Linked DNA regions of Homo sapiens: region 1 is linked to region 2. Evidence: fine-mapped expression QTL. Tissue or cell type: whole blood. Region 2 holds a variant in brackets; the other region holds the start of a gene. All regions are shown on one strand. Distances are between the middles of the regions.

Evidence for each region. PIP is the estimated chance that this variant, and not a neighbour inherited with it, causes the effect.
Region 1: it holds the start of LINC02908, and the variant in region 2 is fine-mapped to the expression of LINC02908 in whole blood (TOPMed, PIP above 0.99).

The regions. Positions count from the first base shown.
Region 1 is chr9:137,023,946-137,031,945 of GRCh38, forward strand. It overlaps LINC02908 (long intergenic non-protein coding RNA 2908), which reads left to right and starts at 3,519. Exons shown (of 3, transcript NR_171031.1): 1 at 3,519-3,966. ABCA2 (ATP binding cassette subfamily A member 2) reads right to left here and starts at 4,292. Exons shown (of 49, transcript NM_001606.5): 1 at 4,130-4,292; 2 at 198-291. The coding sequence starts at 4,195. It overlaps FUT7 (fucosyltransferase 7), which reads right to left. Exons shown (of 2, transcript NM_004479.4): 2 at 6,229-7,780. The coding sequence ends at 6,765. RefSeq lists a silencer at 4,370-4,549 and an enhancer at 4,433-5,177.
Region 2 is chr9:136,944,114-136,952,113 of GRCh38, forward strand. FBXW5 (F-box and WD repeat domain containing 5) reads right to left here and starts at 625. Exons shown (of 9, transcript NM_018998.4): 1 at 481-625. C8G (complement C8 gamma chain) reads left to right here and starts at 1,130. Exons shown (of 7, transcript NM_000606.3): 1 at 1,130-1,345; 2 at 1,521-1,657; 3 at 1,816-1,886; 4 at 1,972-2,079; 5 at 2,352-2,453; 6 at 2,538-2,576; 7 at 2,655-2,862. The coding sequence starts at 1,208. The coding sequence ends at 2,668. It also overlaps a transcript of LCN12 not described here. RefSeq lists silencers at 89-668, 5,557-5,656, 5,677-6,176. The variant C/T (reference allele first, on the strand shown) is at 3,210.

The DNA.
Region 1 (8,000 bases), 80 kb after region 2:
CATCATTCGCGGCCACAGGCCAGCCCCGACCTCCACAGCCCAGCCAGGAGGCACGGCCCAGGACCACACAGGGGAGCAGGCACCGCACCTCAGGGACTCCGGGAGCAGGACACCCGTGTGCAGATGTGCACACACAGCGCAGGCGTGCGAGGTGCCGCGCTCCCCCGGCTGTGCCTGGGGCCTCCTGCCGCACTCACCTTCCTTCACGGAGATGGTGGGCTTCTTCTGTCGCAGCCCCAGCAGGATAAAGAACAGCACCAGGGGGATGAAGATCTCGAAGGCCAGGACCCACTGGAAAGGGTGGGCCCAGTGAGGGATAGGACAGACCTGTGCTCGCCTAGGCCCTCCCCAGCCTCCCATAGGGCTGGCCCAGCCCAGACAGGACCACGTGCTCCCTGGGGCCAGGGAAGGTGGGCACAGGCCCTTCGGAACCACTGAAGGTCTGAGCCCCTTCCAGGGCACTGAGGGTAAGGATTGTCTGGCTCAGCAAATCAGGTTTCCCGTCCCCAGCCCACACTGGGCCTACGTGCCCTCTGAGGAGCCTCAGGGCCTACAGGGACAAATCGGCCAGCTTGTGGTCTACTCTGACCCATGTATATCCCAGCTCATCTTCTCCCTCCCCACCTCCAGGGCTACCTGGGCAAAATCTTGGGGACCATCTGAGCCACTAGCCCCGCCTACACTTCCCACACTGCCCCGGGTTCACCTTCCTCCCACTTCCTCCCCACCAATACCGGGGCCTGGGGAGATGAGGAGGCCTGGTTGAGAGGCTTGGCCTGCGCCCAGGGCCCTGAGCCTCGGAGAAGACCTGGTAAGGGGTCTAACAGCCCCAGTCCCTGAAGCAAAGGCACCTTTTTTTTTTTTTTTTTTTGAGACGGAGTCTCACTCTGTCACCCAGGCTGGAGCACAGTGGTGCGATCTCAGCTCACTGCAAGCTCCGTCCCCCAAGTTCACACCATTCTCTTGCCTCAGCCTCTCGAGTAGCTGGGACTACAGGCGCCCGCCACCATGCCCAGCTAATTTTTTGTATTTTTAGTAGAGACGGGGTTTCACCGTGTTAGCCAGGATGGTGTCGATCTCCTGACCTCGTGATCCGCCCACCTGGGCGTGAGCCACCACACCTGGCCCAAAGGCACCTCTTTCTGCCCTGTCCCCTCTCCTGACCCGGGGCAGCCAGTCTTGGGCCTTGGAGCTCAGTTTCCCCAGGTCGGCTCCTGCTAACCCAGGCTGGGCACCAAGGTGAGCCCTAGTGGGACCTGCGTGGAGTGAGAAAGAGGTGCTTTGCTCACTTCACCTGAAAACCAAGGACTTTACCGGTTCTTGTGTCCCAGCCCCCAGCTCAGGGAGGAGGAGGAGCTTGAGCCAGCTACCCTCCAGAGAGCCCTCGGCAGACCAGCCCTCTCTGAGACCCACAGGACAGAGGGGCCCTGCCCTCCCTAGCCCGAGGGCGAGCACCCAGCTCGGAGGCATCCTTTGTCCTCATCCCCATCCCAAAACCCTTCAGAGCCCCCAGTGTGCTGTGTGGCCCGGGCCGAGTCCCCGGTCCCTGGGGTGGGGGCGGCTGCTGTGTTTACTGTGCTTGGACAATAGGGCTTTGTGGCCAGGAACATCATGCTGTGGGTGTCCCATGCCCGCCCCAGCCCGTGCCAGCCTCCACCCGCTCCCTGAGCCAGGACGGAGCCCAGGGTTCGCCAAGGCACTGTGGGCACCAACAGGCACCAGGGCGAGGGTGGCTGCAGGAGTGAGGCAATGTCAGAGGCAGGGGTCACAGCACGGGGCGCCAGCCCCGCCCACACCCGGCCTGCTATGGGCACTGTAACTGCAGCAACAGGCCCGGCTGCCTCCCCCATTGCTATAGCAACGGCCTCGCACGAGCTACTGGGAGGAGGAGGAGAGTCCTGGCTGGCAGGCGGCGGGCGCCACAGCAGCATCTGGTTACAGGCGGCAGCACAGGTCTAGCACGCCCTGGGTGCCCCACACAGGTGCCTCCAGGTGGCCCAACCTCCGTCCCTCGAGACCAGCCCAGTGCCTTCACATCGCCTGGAGGCCTAGATGCCTTCTCTGGGCATGACCCCTCCCTGTAGCTCCCGCCTACTGTGTCGGGGGGAGAACAGGTGAGACCCGAGGGTGGCGCTGCCATCTGCCATCCCAGTGACTTCATGACAGTGACCCTGTCCCTGCACCAAGAGCAGCCTGTAGCCCAAGGGTAGACCCAAGTCCAGCTAACTAAGAGGAGATAGGCCACACTCACAGACAGGGAAACTGAGGCAAAGAGCTTGGAGGAGCCTGCTAGCAGCACAGAGGTCCTTGGCACCCACCCTCCAGACCCTGAGCTCTGCCCAGGGTGGAGCTCTGCCCAGGGTGCACCCCTGCCCCAGCAGGGCGCATGGCACACAGGGCAAACCTCTGTCATCCAAGCTTGGCCCCAAGAGTCCAGCTCTGATGTCCAAGATCCTTCCCAGGAAAGTGGGGACCCAGCAGGAGTGTGCCCAGTGTCCAGCCAGCCCCAGCCCCACATCACAAGCCTGGCAAGGACTCAGCCTCCCTGGGGGAAACAGTTCCCCACCTGCTCCAGCCATGGGCTAAGGACCTCCACTGTGGCCCAGTGGGCCTCTGGGAGCCCTGTAGGGTGGGGACCCAAAAAGGTCCTGGGGGGCAGCCCAAACCAGCAGCTGGGAGTCACTCTTGCGGTCAGGACAGTGCACACCTCCCACCTGCTTGCCAGCTGCCCTCATAGGCCACACTCCCTTCCCTGAGCATTGTCCCCACTGGAACAGGGGCCACCATTCCAGCCTCTGCTCCCAAGCCCAGTGGGGACCTTCCTGACAACCACCCCCGGGGACTAATACTAATGCATGCCACATGCCACATCCCTGTTCCCTTGGCCCTGCTCTGCTGTCCCCAGTGACTCAATGCCAGGGGCTGCAGGCCTGATCCATGGGACCCCACTCAGCCAGCTCCAGGTGCCTGGCCAGGGCATGTACCTAACCCAGGCTCCCCGCCAAGGCCAGGTGCCCAGGGGAATTCTGCCAGCCATGGTGATGATGGCCACCCCAGCTGACTGCAGCCTGGGTTTCCTGCAGTGCATGTTGAAAGATAAACAGGCACGGACTGGTGCAGCCCAAGGGGTCCCGCCCGGGCCCTGGCTGGGCAAGAGGATGTCTGCCTTAGGCCCCCACCTGCTCTGAGCCCTGGCCTGGACAATCCCAAGGGCCTTCAGAAACCTAAGCTGGTCCAGGCCTGTGGCCTGGGAGGTGTCCCTTCCCTTCCCAGGCTGGAGCCAAGCTGGCCAGCTGGGGGTATGGCAGGACACCCATATCCCCAAGCCCCTCGCTCCACGAAGGACTTCTGTCCCTGACAGCCATGTGTCCTGCACCCTCAGGTCCACTGGCTGCCCAGGCAGTGCTGGGAAAGCCGGGGTTCACAGCTCCAAACAGTAGACCCAGCCCCCAGAGCAGGTGGGGGGACCAGGAGGCAACAGAGTGGATCAGGCTCGGGGAGAACTGACCCCAAAGGACAAATGGGTGCAGAGATTCAGGCTGGCCAAGGCTGGCACAAGGACATTCCCAGTGGCGAGAGCATGAGCAAGGGTCACGGATGTGCCAGGAGGGGAGGCGGAGAGATGCCTGGGACCAACCTCTATGGCAGGCCGCGGCCCAAGGGCAGGGGAGGGGTGGACGGAGGGAAGGGACAGGGTCTCCTCCGGGACCCCAGGGAGGCTGGGCCCAAGGACCATGGAGCCTCGCAGCTGAATGGAGCCCCCCAGGCCTGCCTTCTGTCCTGGGAACCAGGGCCTCCCTCGAGCCAGAGTCCTGAGCGCCGCTTGCCCCCCGCCCACAGCGGCCCCAGCGAGCGCGCTGCAGAGGGCGCGGGTGCCGTGACTCAGCCGAGCACCGCGATGTCAGCGGACGCGGGACCGGACTGGACACGACCGAGCCACCTCCCCGGAGGCCGCAGCGCCGGCAGGCGAGGGCAGGGCCCGGCGGGGAGGGGGCTCGGGCCCGCGCCGCCCCCAGCGCCCGCCGGGGTCTGCGCGCGCCCGGCCGTCCGCACGTGCGCGCGGGGAGCGCGCCTCTGGCCGCGGTGCGCGCGGCCTCGGGCTGAGGGCGGGCGCGTGGGGTGGGCTCACCGGGCTCCGGCGTTTGAGCGTCACGTTCTTCCAGAGCAGCAGCTGCAGCTGGTGCAGGAAGCCCATGGCGGGGCCACGCTCCGCCGCCTCAGCGCCGCGGCCCGCTCCTCTGCGCGCCCCGCCGGGCCCCGCAGCCCGCCGCGCCGCTGGGCATCGCCCGCGCGGGGGCGGGGCGCTCGGGCGTCCGGGACCCGATCCGCGCTGGCTCCGCCCCGGCGGCCGCGGCGACAGCGACTCTGCCCGCGCCCCGCCCGCCCCCGCTTAAAGGCGCCGCGCTCCGTCCGCGCCCGCCAGGAGGCGCCCGCCGCCCGCGCCGCGCCCGGGACCGACCCGGGCCCGAGACCCTGCGCGCGCCGCCGCCGGGAAGCCTCCGGGCCGCCCCTCGCCGGGCGTCACGCGACGCGCCCACATCGAATCCGAGACCCCGGCTTAGCCTTCGTAGGCCGGGGGACCCTCGGGCGCTGCGCTCTTCTCCCAGAGGCATCCGGCTGCGCCCACCGCGCTGGCGACTCTGCAGAGGCGCCCCAAGCCTTCACTGTCCCCGGGGCGCGCCGAGCGGACGCTGGCGAGGGGCCAGCTCACCCCCGTAAGGGTCTCCTGTGTGCTTTGTAAACCAGCACTTGGAGTCCAGGTGGTGCCCACCTGGAAGGGAGGCAGGGCGGCCAGGTGGGTCCGTCCCGCGATTCCGAGCAGCCAGCGGAAGGGGGGAAACTCGAGGCCCCAGGAACGCTCGCCGTGAGCGGAGCAGGCAGGGGACCGAGGCGGCCCCTGCTGCACGCGGCTCGTTTTTCTCCCCATATTCGGGCGAGTCTGGTCTCTGCACAGGGAGTTCGGGATCAGGCGGTTCTGCGGCTGTGGCTTGGCACCTGCTGGGGCGCCCCGGGAGGTGGGGCAGTTCCTCCGCGTGGCCTGTAGAGAGCGACAGAGGACAGGCTGACCCCATGGGTGGCTCTGACGGCGCTTCCCAGACTCAGTTTCCCCCCTGTGAATGGGGTGGAGTAGCGCTGTGTGGTGTCCAGTGTCAGGGCGCACATAGAAGGCGCATCCTCAAGTGAATGAAGACCTCCGAGGCCACAGCTCCCCACTCCTCCCAGCTCCTTTGCAGCAGGAAGGTGACCCTGGGCTAGTGAGTGAGGGATCAGCTTCCCACCCCAGCCCGCAGCCTCAAGGCACTTGCTTTTCTCTGCTCAGTCCACAGGGCTGGGTCAGGGCAGGAAGCTACCAGCAGGTCTTTCCCACAAGCCACAGCCATGGGTGAGGGGGGCTTCCTGCCCTCAACCTGCCCACCCCTACCTGGGGTAGGGACAAGCCCTGTGCCCCAGCCCCGGGGGCTTAGCCTGTTGGGGCCCTGGTCAGCACCACCCGTGGGTTGGCCTCTCTCCTCCTCGCCCCACTCTCCACCGTCCACTACAGGGGCTCCCTGGCTGCAGCCGCATCCCCAGTGCCTCCCCAGCACTGGCCACCAGAGGGAGCTACAAGGCACAGGTCAGACCCTGTCACCCCAGACACCCTCCAGCCTGCGGGCCTGGGAGATGGGCGATTTCAGCCTGGCCAGGCCTCTGACGTCCGTTCCCTACTCTTCCCCAACCTTGGCCTGTTTTGGTTTTTGTTTTGAGACAGGGTCTCATTCTGTTGCCCAGGCTGGAGTGCTGTGGTGTGATCACGGCTCACTGAAGCTTCAACCTCCTGGGCTCAAGCCATCCTCTCACCTCAGTATCCCAAGTAGCTGAGACCACAAGCGTGAGCCACCACGCCCTGCTAATTCTTGTATTTTTGGTAGAGATGAGATTTCACTACACTGCCCAGGCTGGTCTCGAACTCCTGGGCTCATCGCCTTGGCCTTTTGGGGGACACAGAAGGCTCTCTGATAAGGGGCCGTCTGGCGGAGGCTGTAGGAACTGGGGTAGCCAGTGGGCAGCCCGGCACAGGGAGGGCTCTCAGGCGGAGGGTGAGCAAAGGCCCAGAAGTCAGGCGACAGGACCCCCCGTGGGGAACAAGCAGCCCCATGGCCGTGGGGGCGACATGTCAGGGGAGGGCAGATGCAGGCTCTGTGGCCCTGCACGGAGGTGACCCATGAGACACTGGCCAGACCCACGAGGCACTGCTCAGATGTTTATTGTCCACCGCCCTCCCTCCCTGAGCCCAGAACAAGCTGGTTTGCTCCCCGTGGTCTCCTGGGCCCCGCCCCAGCCTACACACAGGGACCTCAGAACTATGGACGTGGCAGGGACCCGTGCCTGTGTCTCGGGGACCACAGGGCCTCTGCTACCGAGGAAGCTCGGGGTCCCAGGTTTGGCCCCCACAAACTTCAGGCTGGGGTGCCCCCCAGCCCCAAGGGCCCTGCCTTTCACCCTCTTCCAGCCAGGCCTTCACCCACCCAAGATTTGTTCAGGGTGGGGAGGGTCCTCGGCAGCCTTTCCCCTCCCGTCTGCCGCAGCAGGCACCCGTTACCTCCCTCCCACTCTCACCTCCTCTGCATGCTCCAGTGCCCACCTGCACCCCCCACCCCTGCTTCCTGACCTCTGTGCCCAGCCTCCCGTTAGCCCGCTGCTTGCCGGTAAGGGCCGGATGCCTGGTGGTTTGATTTCGACACCCAGCCCTTCCACCCACACCCACCTCCCCCGGCCAGCGGATCTCAGGCCTGAAACCAACCCTCAAGGTCCTCATAGACTTGGCTGCGGGGTAGGTGTGGGTAGCGGTCACAGATGGCACAGAAACGTTCCCGCCAGTCGGTGAACAGTCGCACGCGGAGCCTGTCACGCCAGGCAAAGAAGCGTTGGTATCGGCTCTCATTCATGCCAGTGAGGAAAGCCGCCAGCTCTCGGGCTGAGCCAAAGTCATCCACATGCACGAAGGCGTCAGCCGGCACGAAGGCCTCATAGGTGGCCCGTGGGGGCCCCAGCACCACTGGCACAGTGCCAGCCACCAGTGCGTTGCGCCAGAATTTCTCCGTAATGTAGTCGCGGTGCTGAGAGTTCTCAAAGGACAGGTAGAAGCGGTACTGGGCCACGGTGGGCACCAGGCAGCTGGCGCACAGTGGCCGTCCATTGGCACGGCCAAAGACATCCACCCGCAGATGAGGCGCCAGCTGCCGGTACAGCCTGGCACGCAGCTGCCGCTCCTGGAAGTTGCTGACCACCCAGGCGGCCACCCTGCTCTTGGCTGGCAGCGGTGGCGAGGGCCCCCAGTGGGGCTCCAGGCGGCCATAGGGCACAAAGATGTCCGAGTCGCGCCGGTAGCTCAGCACCCAGTTGAAGATGCCTCGGAGGTGGCTGAGGCCGTGGGTGTGGCTAGGAGACTCCATGGAGGCCCACACCCAGGGCTGCCCTCGCGGCCGCTGGGCCAGGGGCAGGTGGGACCGCCGGGTCTGCAGCTCGCGGTGGTGGAAGACCACGGCGTCGGCGCTGGCCAGCAGGCTTCGGTTGGCACTCAGGTGGCAGCGGGCGATGCCGTAGCGGGTGCAGGTGTCGCTGGGCAGCTCTGGGGGCTGGTCAGTGAAGGGCCAGTGCCAGACAAGGATGGTGATCGTGGGCTGGGGTGCCGGGGTACCCCGAGGGGCTGACCCCAGCAGCCACAGGAGCCAGAGGGCAGCGAGCAGAGCCACCCCGGCCAGGACCCCCAAGCCTCGCAGCCTCCGGGTGGGGCCGTGCCCTGCAGCAGCACGAGGGAGGGGAGGCTCTGTCACTTGGGCTCAGGGACATCCACACGCCCCACTCAGCGCCAACCCCGTCCTCCCCTCCCATGGGCTCAGGGACACCCACATGCCCCACTCAGCGCCACCCCCGTCCTCCCCTCCCATGGGCTCAGGGACACCGACATGCCCCACTCAGCGCCACCCCCGTCCTCCCCTCCCAGGTTGCCTAGCTGTCCC
Region 2 (8,000 bases):
CCACCAACGGCTGCCCTCAGCCCAGGCCCGGGAAGGGAGGCCGAGAGCGGGCGTCCTGTTCCTCCAGCCCCAACCGTCCCGCCGGGAGTTCCACGGGGCTGCGTGTCTGCAGGGGACGCCCGGGTACCGCCGCCCAACCAAGGACCCGGCAGCTCCGGGCGGGCCGGGCCGGCCCCTCTCCGCCGCGTCATCCCCCGGCCTCCTGCGGCCGGCAGCGGGCGCCCCTCAGCCCGCCAGGGCCCGGACCGCCGCACGCGAGGCACGGGGACACCAGGCGCCGTCCGGGGACGGGCTTCCGCCGAGAGGAAGCTCGGGGCGGCCAGGCAGTGGCCTCCGCCCTGCGGCCCTGGAGCAGCTCTGCCCGGCGGGCTCGGGGCGGACGGCGGGGACGAGCGCACGGGCGGCCTCGGGGCTCCTGCACTCGCCCAAGGCGGGCGGGGACGACAAGGCGGGACCCCCGAGGGCCGCAGGCGCACTCACCACGGCCGCCTCCGCCCGCTGCGCCGCCCCCGCCCTGCGCGACCCGGACCCGCTTCCGCTGCCGCAGCCGCTCGGACCGCCGCCCCCGCCCAACGGGGAGCCCGCCAGGCCCGACGCCACGAGCCCCGAGGCATCGATGGCCGAGGAAGGCAGAGCGCGCGGGTAGCCCGCATCCGCCCCTCGTGCGCCTGCGCCTTGGGCTCCGGCGGCCTGGCCGGCTTTTCTTTGTGCGCCTGCGCGCACTCGGGCGCATTGGGAACAGCGCCCCTTGTGGCCAGCGGGCGGCGGTCGTGGGCGGGGTTGCAGGCGAGGCTCAACGAACGCTGGTTCGGGACCCGCCTCCGGCGCTCCCTGTTGCCGGGCCCTGAGCAAGTGGCTTCATGAACCCCGTGACGTTGGCCATGGAGATAAGACCACTGGGTGATGGTTTAAGGAAGATAACGTGTAAAGGGCTAAGGACTGTCGGTGGAAATCAGGGGTGCAGGAGAAATGGATAAACAGCCAGAGGTCAACTCGGACTTTGTACATAGGACATGGTGCCAGGGCCCTGCCAGGAAGTGCAGATCGAAGCTAGGCTCACGAGGAGGCTGGAGGTGGGGGGTGGGGAGGCAACGGATGGACATGGACTTCCTGGGCTGGGCTCTGTGACAGCAGAGTAGACTCTGTCCTGGGACTTGGTGGTGCTACCCTTGGCCTCCCACAGTCCTGCCACCCTGCTGCCGCCACCATGCTGCCCCCTGGGACTGCGACCCTCTTGACTCTGCTCCTGGCAGCTGGCTCGCTGGGCCAGAAGCCTCAGAGGCCACGCCGGCCCGCATCCCCCATCAGCACCATCCAGCCCAAGGCCAATTTTGATGCTCAGCAGGTAGAAGTTGGGGGGGGTAGAGGGAGGCAGGTAGAAGTTGTGGGAGGGGTAGAGGGAGACAGGTAGAAGTTGTTGCGGGGGAGAGGGAAGCAGGTGAAGTTGTGGGGGGTGTAGAGGGAAGCAGGTGAGGGGCCCTCCCACAGTGCCCTCGAGTTCTCCCATGGTCTGCCCCCAGTTTGCAGGGACCTGGCTCCTTGTGGCTGTGGGCTCCGCTTGCCGTTTCCTGCAGGAGCAGGGCCACCGGGCCGAGGCCACCACACTGCATGTGGCTCCCCAGGGCACAGCCATGGCTGTCAGTACCTTCCGAAAGCTGTGAGTCCCAGAGCAGCCCTGCACCCTAACCCCAACCCTCCTCTCAGCCCCCGGACTTCAGCCCTGCTCTGGCCCCTGACCCCACCCCGGCTGTGGCCTGGACTAGGATTCCTGGTTGGGGTCTCCCAGCCTGTGGTGCCTCCTCCCCGCCCCCCCAGGGATGGGATCTGCTGGCAGGTGCGCCAGCTCTATGGAGACACAGGGGTCCTCGGCCGCTTCCTGCTTCAAGGTGAGGCAGGGGCTGCAGGGCATGTGGGTGGGGGATGACGCAGCCACTGTGGCTCTCTGACATGGCTACTGTGGCTCTGCCCCAGCCCGAGACGCCCGAGGGGCTGTGCACGTGGTTGTCGCTGAGACCGACTACCAGAGTTTCGCTGTCCTGTACCTGGAGCGGGCGGGGCAGCTGTCAGTGAAGCTCTACGGTATGTGGGGGCCAGCCTCTGTGACCAGGCAGGCGCTCAAGCTCTGCACACTCACTGGGCCACCCCGAGGGGCTGGGTGAGCCCATGGGGACACACTTCCTTTCTCCCATCCTGATCCTCCTGCTAAGCAGGGGCCCAGGGAGTAGTGACAGACAGGCCTGGTGTGGGAGCAGGGAGAGGGCCCCGAGGGGGCAGGGGACACACAGACCCCGTTTCCAGAGCCCTCCACGCCGCCTGGTGCCAGGACCCCAGGAACCCTGTCTGCCCTGCAGCCCGCTCGCTCCCTGTGAGCGACTCGGTCCTGAGTGGGTTTGAGCAGCGGGTCCAGGAGGCCCACCTGACTGAGGACCAGATCTTCTACTTCCCCAAGTACGGTGAGTGTCCCCAGCAGGTCCCCAGCTCAGCCACCCCCACTCTCTGGGCTGATGTCCAGCCTGACCCCTGCCTTGGGCCCCCAGGCTTCTGCGAGGCTGCAGACCAGTTCCACGTCCTGGACGGTGAGTGCACAGCGGGGCAAGCATGGCGGCGTGGTGAGGGGGGCCACTGCCACCGGCTGAGTCTCGTCTCTGCTGCAGAAGTGAGGAGGTGAGGCCGGCACACAGCTCCAGTGCTGAGAAGTCAGTGCCCCGAGAGACGACCCCACCAGTGGGGTGCCCGCTGCCTGTCCTCCGTGAAACCAGCCTCAGATCAGGGCCCTGCCACCCAGGGCAGGGGATCTTCTGCCGGCTGCCCCAGAGGACAGTGGGTGGAGTGGTACCTACTTATTAAATGTCTCAGACCCCTCTCTGACTCTTCTGTCCACTCTGGACCGGCGCCAGTACCACCAAGGCCCTCTCTGCCCCCACCCCGCCTCTTTAAAAGCCCGGCGCTCCCTGTTGGCTGGAGTCCACGCAGTGGGCACTGGGCCGATTTCAGCGGCTCTTGGGATTTGGGAGGGGAGATCCTCTCTGGCATATGCCCATCTTGTGCCCTGCTGGGACCTGGGGGCGTCCAGCCTCACTCCAAGGCTGCTCTTGCCTGGGCCATTGTCCTGCAGCCCCCGGGCTGCTCTTCCGCCCCCGTGGGAGGCCAGCTGTCTCCCGTCACTGCCCATTTTGGCCTCTTCCGAGCCGAGCTGGCACCAGCTGGCC[C/T]GTGTTGGTGGCAGCAGTTGGTGCTGTCCACCCACAGCCACTGCACTCTCTGCACACCTCATCCACTCCCACGTCCCCCGTGAAACCAGGAAGCAGAAGAGAATGTGGGGGTGGGCCAGCTCTGCCCTCGGGGCAGCCCCTGGGCTAGGGCCGGAGAATCAGGAACCCGGCATGGCTTGACCATGCTGGGCCTGGACCTGGCCGCTAAGCTGCTCCTCTCAGGCCCTGCCTGCGGCCACTGGCATTTGTTTGATAAGCATTTCTGAAGGCCCACTGTGTGCTGGGCCCTGGGACCACCAGGTGGGCTGGTCCCTCCCCCTAGGAACTTACAAGTCCAGGGATCAGCCACCAATCGGCCACAGTGGGCAGGGATGGGAGGAGAAGGCACCTTGGAGTTGGTCCCAAAGCACACGGCCTGGGTGGGGGCAGGGAGGAGCCAGCAGCTGCTTCAGGGGGGTCCCCATCCCACGGGCGGGGCTCCCCCTGCCGTGCCCACCTGTTCACTAAGCTGCTAGACCCCAGGAGGGCAGGCAAGTCAGGTGGTGGGAAGGGGAGGCAGGGGCCCTGACTGCCGGGACCTGGGAAGGAGAAGGGCCCAGGAGGTCGTACCCTTGCATCGCCTTCCCCCACTCCAGCTCCATGTCCCAGAGACCCATGAGATAGCAGGGCGCAGCAGAAGGGCTCAGGGTTCAGAGCTGGCAACGCCGGGAAGACTCTAGGCCTGAGCCCCAGGAAAGCCTCCTCCATGCCTGGCCCCACATCCCCCAAACAGAAAGTGAGGGTCTCATCTGGGGGCAGGAGGAGTCGGGTAGCTGGCCACGGTCACAAGCTTCAGGGAGGGCTGAATGTCCGAGGGGTGGCGCCAGAGACCCACCCGATGACCTTGGGTGCTGTGGTTGGTGGCAGAGTGGCCCAGCCTGACCCTCCACGCCTCTGACTGCAGGGCTGGGTGGGTTCCCGCACTGAGTGAAGTGCGTGGCCACTTGGCTGTGTGCTCTGGGACCAGAGGATGTGCAGCGCAAGGATTACAAGGCATTTCATTTTCACAGAAGCATTGAATGAGCTCTAGTTAAATTTCAAACACTACATAAAATCACGATAGCTCTGTGTGAATCATTGTTCTTTAAAATAGTTTGCATAATTTGGCTGGGCGTGGTGGCTTACGCCTATAATCCCAGCACTTTGGGAGGCTGAGGCGGGTGGATCACTTGAGGCCAGGAGTTCAAGACCAGCCTGTCCAACATGGTGAAACCTTGTCTCTACTAAAAATACAAAAATTAGCTGGTCATGGTGGCAGGCGCCTGTAATCCCAGCTACTCCAGAGGCTGAGGCAGGAGAATTGCTTGAACCCAGGAGGCAGAGGTTGTGGTGACCCGGGATCATGCCACTGCCTCCAGTCTGGGCGACAGTGAGACTCTGTCTCAAAAAAAAAAAAAAAAAAAAAATCTATGGAAATGGCTGGGCGCTGTGGCTCACGCCTGTAATTCTAGCACTTTGGGAGGCTGAGGCGGGCAGATCACTTGAGGTCAGGAGTTTGAAACCAGCCTGGCCAACATGGTGAAACCCCGTCTCTACTAAAAATACAAAAAAAATTAGCCAGGCGTGGTGGTGGGCGCCTGTAATCCTAGCTACCCAGGAGGCTCAGGCAGGAGAATCGCTTGAATCCAGGGGACAGAGGTTGCCGTGAGCCGAGATCGCGCCATTGCACTCCAGCCCGGGTGACAGAGCGAGACTCTGTCTCAATTTATTTAAAAAACAACAACAAACAACAACAAAACTATGCAAACTGGCTGGGCACAGTGGCTCACACCTTTAATCTCAGCACTTTGAGAGGCTGAGGCAGGAGGATCGCTTGAGGCCAGGAGTTCAAGATCTGACTGGGTGGGCAACATAGTGAGACCTCATCTCTATTTAAAAAAAAAGTTTTTTCATCTATAGAAACTAACATTTAATTGTTAGCAGTCTTGCCCAAGACCTGCGGGGTCAGGAGTCCAGGACTGTCCTGGGTGCCCCCGCCTTGCCTGGACGTGAGAGTGCTGTGTGGGGCCCCGGGAGCCCCTGGTCCCACAGGCAGGGCCGACAGGCAGGTGCCGTGCCCGTCCTCCCTGCCCACGCAGGTGCTCAGAGGGACAGGTGGGCCAGGACTCCTCCATGTGGGGACGAGGCACCCTCCTCCCCAGCCACGCCCCAACCACCCCTGGCCCCCCACCCCACCCCCAAGGGGCCTCCCAGCGCCCAGGACCGTGTCTGGGAAAAGGTCTTTGCCCGGAGAGTGGGAAGAGAGAGGGGAGGGTGAGCAGAGGACAGGCCGGGAGTTTTCCGGGAACGGAGGAAGAGCAGTGGAGGGTAAGTCTGTCCTTGTTGCTGTGGGGAGGCCGAGATGAAGGCGATGGGTTGGGGGTGGGGGTGCCGGGGAGCGAAGCAGAGGGAAGAGAGGACCTGATGGGAGGGGTCAATGGGAGAGGCCCCAGGGACCGGTCCCCACGGTGGGCTGGGGGTCCAGGGTGCTGAGTGGAAGCGGCGGTTTCCCTCCCGCCTCTCAAGGACGCCTTGCAGAAGGCGCGGCTGCTCCTCCCCGTGGCACGCAAGCTCCCGGGCACCGCCTCCCGCCTCGGCCTCCCAAAGCGCTGGGCTCACTGGCGTGTGCTGCCGCGCCCGGCCCGCCCACCCCAGGCGGTATGGAAGGCCGAGGTCAGAGCCAGGACTCCCCCGGGAGCCCCGCAGGTGCCTCAAGGCCCGCGTCCTGCACGGCCCGTTCCAGCGCCGCCGGCCCAGCCAGGCAAAGGCACCTGCAGGGCCCTGATTGGGCGGCGGAGGTCACGTGCCCACCCTCCACCAATCACGTTAGACGGGAGGAGCAGCACCTGCGTCTGCCCCGCGGTGGGGGGAGGAGGCGCGCCGAACCCATTGTCGTGTCCGGGAGGCTCCTGCAGGGGACGTGGGGGGCACAGAGGTTAACGGCAGCAGCCAGTGGCTACCTGGAGGCACACACAGACCCCCCAGGGCGGCAGGAGTGGGTCTGGGGGAGGGAGCATGGGGCCTGAGGCGCTGCTTGGAGCCGAGGGACCCTCCTCTGTGTCGAGGACTCGGCCCACCCGACCTCTGCTGCTCAGTCTCTGTGGGTCTCGGGCTGGCCAGGGAAGGCCCGGTTTTCCTCCCGCAGGGCCCTGCATGGGCGGGGTCCGTAGCGGGGACTGTCCTGTACATGGGCTGTGTGCTGTGATCCCAAATCTCCCCAGTGCCCTGCGATAAGACGGGCTCCGGGAGGGGTGCCTGCTGCGCTGAGAGCGGGACCCTGGGGCTGCGGACAGGCGCTCCTAGGCTGGCTGGGGCCAGGGGGATGGTGGAGAGTCGAAGGCGCCTTGGGGAGTTCAGGGGAATGAACAGATTATTTCCAACTTTTCCTTCCCTGGGCCAGCCTCCTGAAACGCTAGCGTTGTGCTGGTGAGACAAGGCACAGCAAGCTGCCCTTCTACGTGGGCAGTGAGGCCTGGGACAGAGCCCAGCCCTGGAGCCCTGAAGTCCTGGGGGCTGGGCTCTTCGAGTGGCCAGGCTGGGGCTGCCACCCAGGGCAGGCTGCCGAGGCCCAGGGCACCTCCTGGGATGAGCCTAAGTCCCTTGTAAGCAGGGCTGGATGAGGGGAGGAGGTGGCCAGGACAGGGAATCTGGGGTGGGAGGGGGCAGCCAGGACAGGGACCTGGGGGGCCTGGACAGAGGCTCACAGGCCAGGCACACGGTGAGTGGGAGGCACCTGGCTCACCCTTGGTGACCCCTAACATGGAGTCCAGCACCCAGAGGCTTCAGCTACCTGTGAGGATGGGAGGAGAGGTCAGGAAGGGGACTCCACTCCCTAGCCCCATCGTCCAAGGGGTGCCAGGGCAGCTAGAAGCCCCAAGCCTGCCATTGCCCTCCCTGCCAGCCCTCTGTTTACATTTTATTTTTATATTTTTAGAGATGAGATCTCAGTCTTGCCCAGGCTGGAGTCCAGTGGCACAATCATAGCTTACTGCAGGCTCAAACTCCTGGGCTAAAGCAATCCTCCCACCTCAGCCTCTCAAGTAGCTGGGACCACAGGTGTGCACCACCACCCCCAGCTAACTTTTAAATTTTTTTGTAGAGATGGAGTCTCGCTATGTTGTCCAGGGTGATGTCAAACTCCTGGGCTTGAGAGATCCTCCCACCTTGGCCCCCCAAAGTGCTGGGATTATAGGCATGAGCCTCTGTGCCTGGCCTACTAATCCTTTCTTTTAGGCAGGACCAGCATGGGGTGCCCACTCCCATTAGTGGGGCTTCCCAGCCCTGCCCCTCCCTCTGGGCAGAGACTGCGTTTAAAATGCCCCAGCTGTCCTCACCAGGTTGCCTGGGTGCTCTGCAGGCCCCAGCCTCCCTCCTCGCCTGCTCGGGCCACCTCCACCCCGGCCTCATGGCCACAGGGCCCCTCCCTGGTCCTGTTCTTGCTCCAGGGCCACGGCCCACGCTGCGGTTCAGGCATGTGTGGAGCCAGGCAGGGTGGGGGTAGGGGGGCGGCTGGCAGGCCCAGGCCCTGCAGGGGGAATGCCCGGGTTTGGCCACAGCTGGGCCCTGTCCCTTATGGCTGCGGCAGGTCACGCTGTCTGCCTGGGACGCAACATTCTGTGACAGGGAGGAAGGCTGGGGCAGGCTGCGTGGGGCCTCTGAACCCCCAGCATGGGGCACTTGGAAGGGGGCTGAAGGGGGCAGGGCCTCAGAAATGAGAAGAAGAGGTGGAAGGTGGACCTGGGGGCCCCTCCTACCCCACCTGGCTGGAACCCA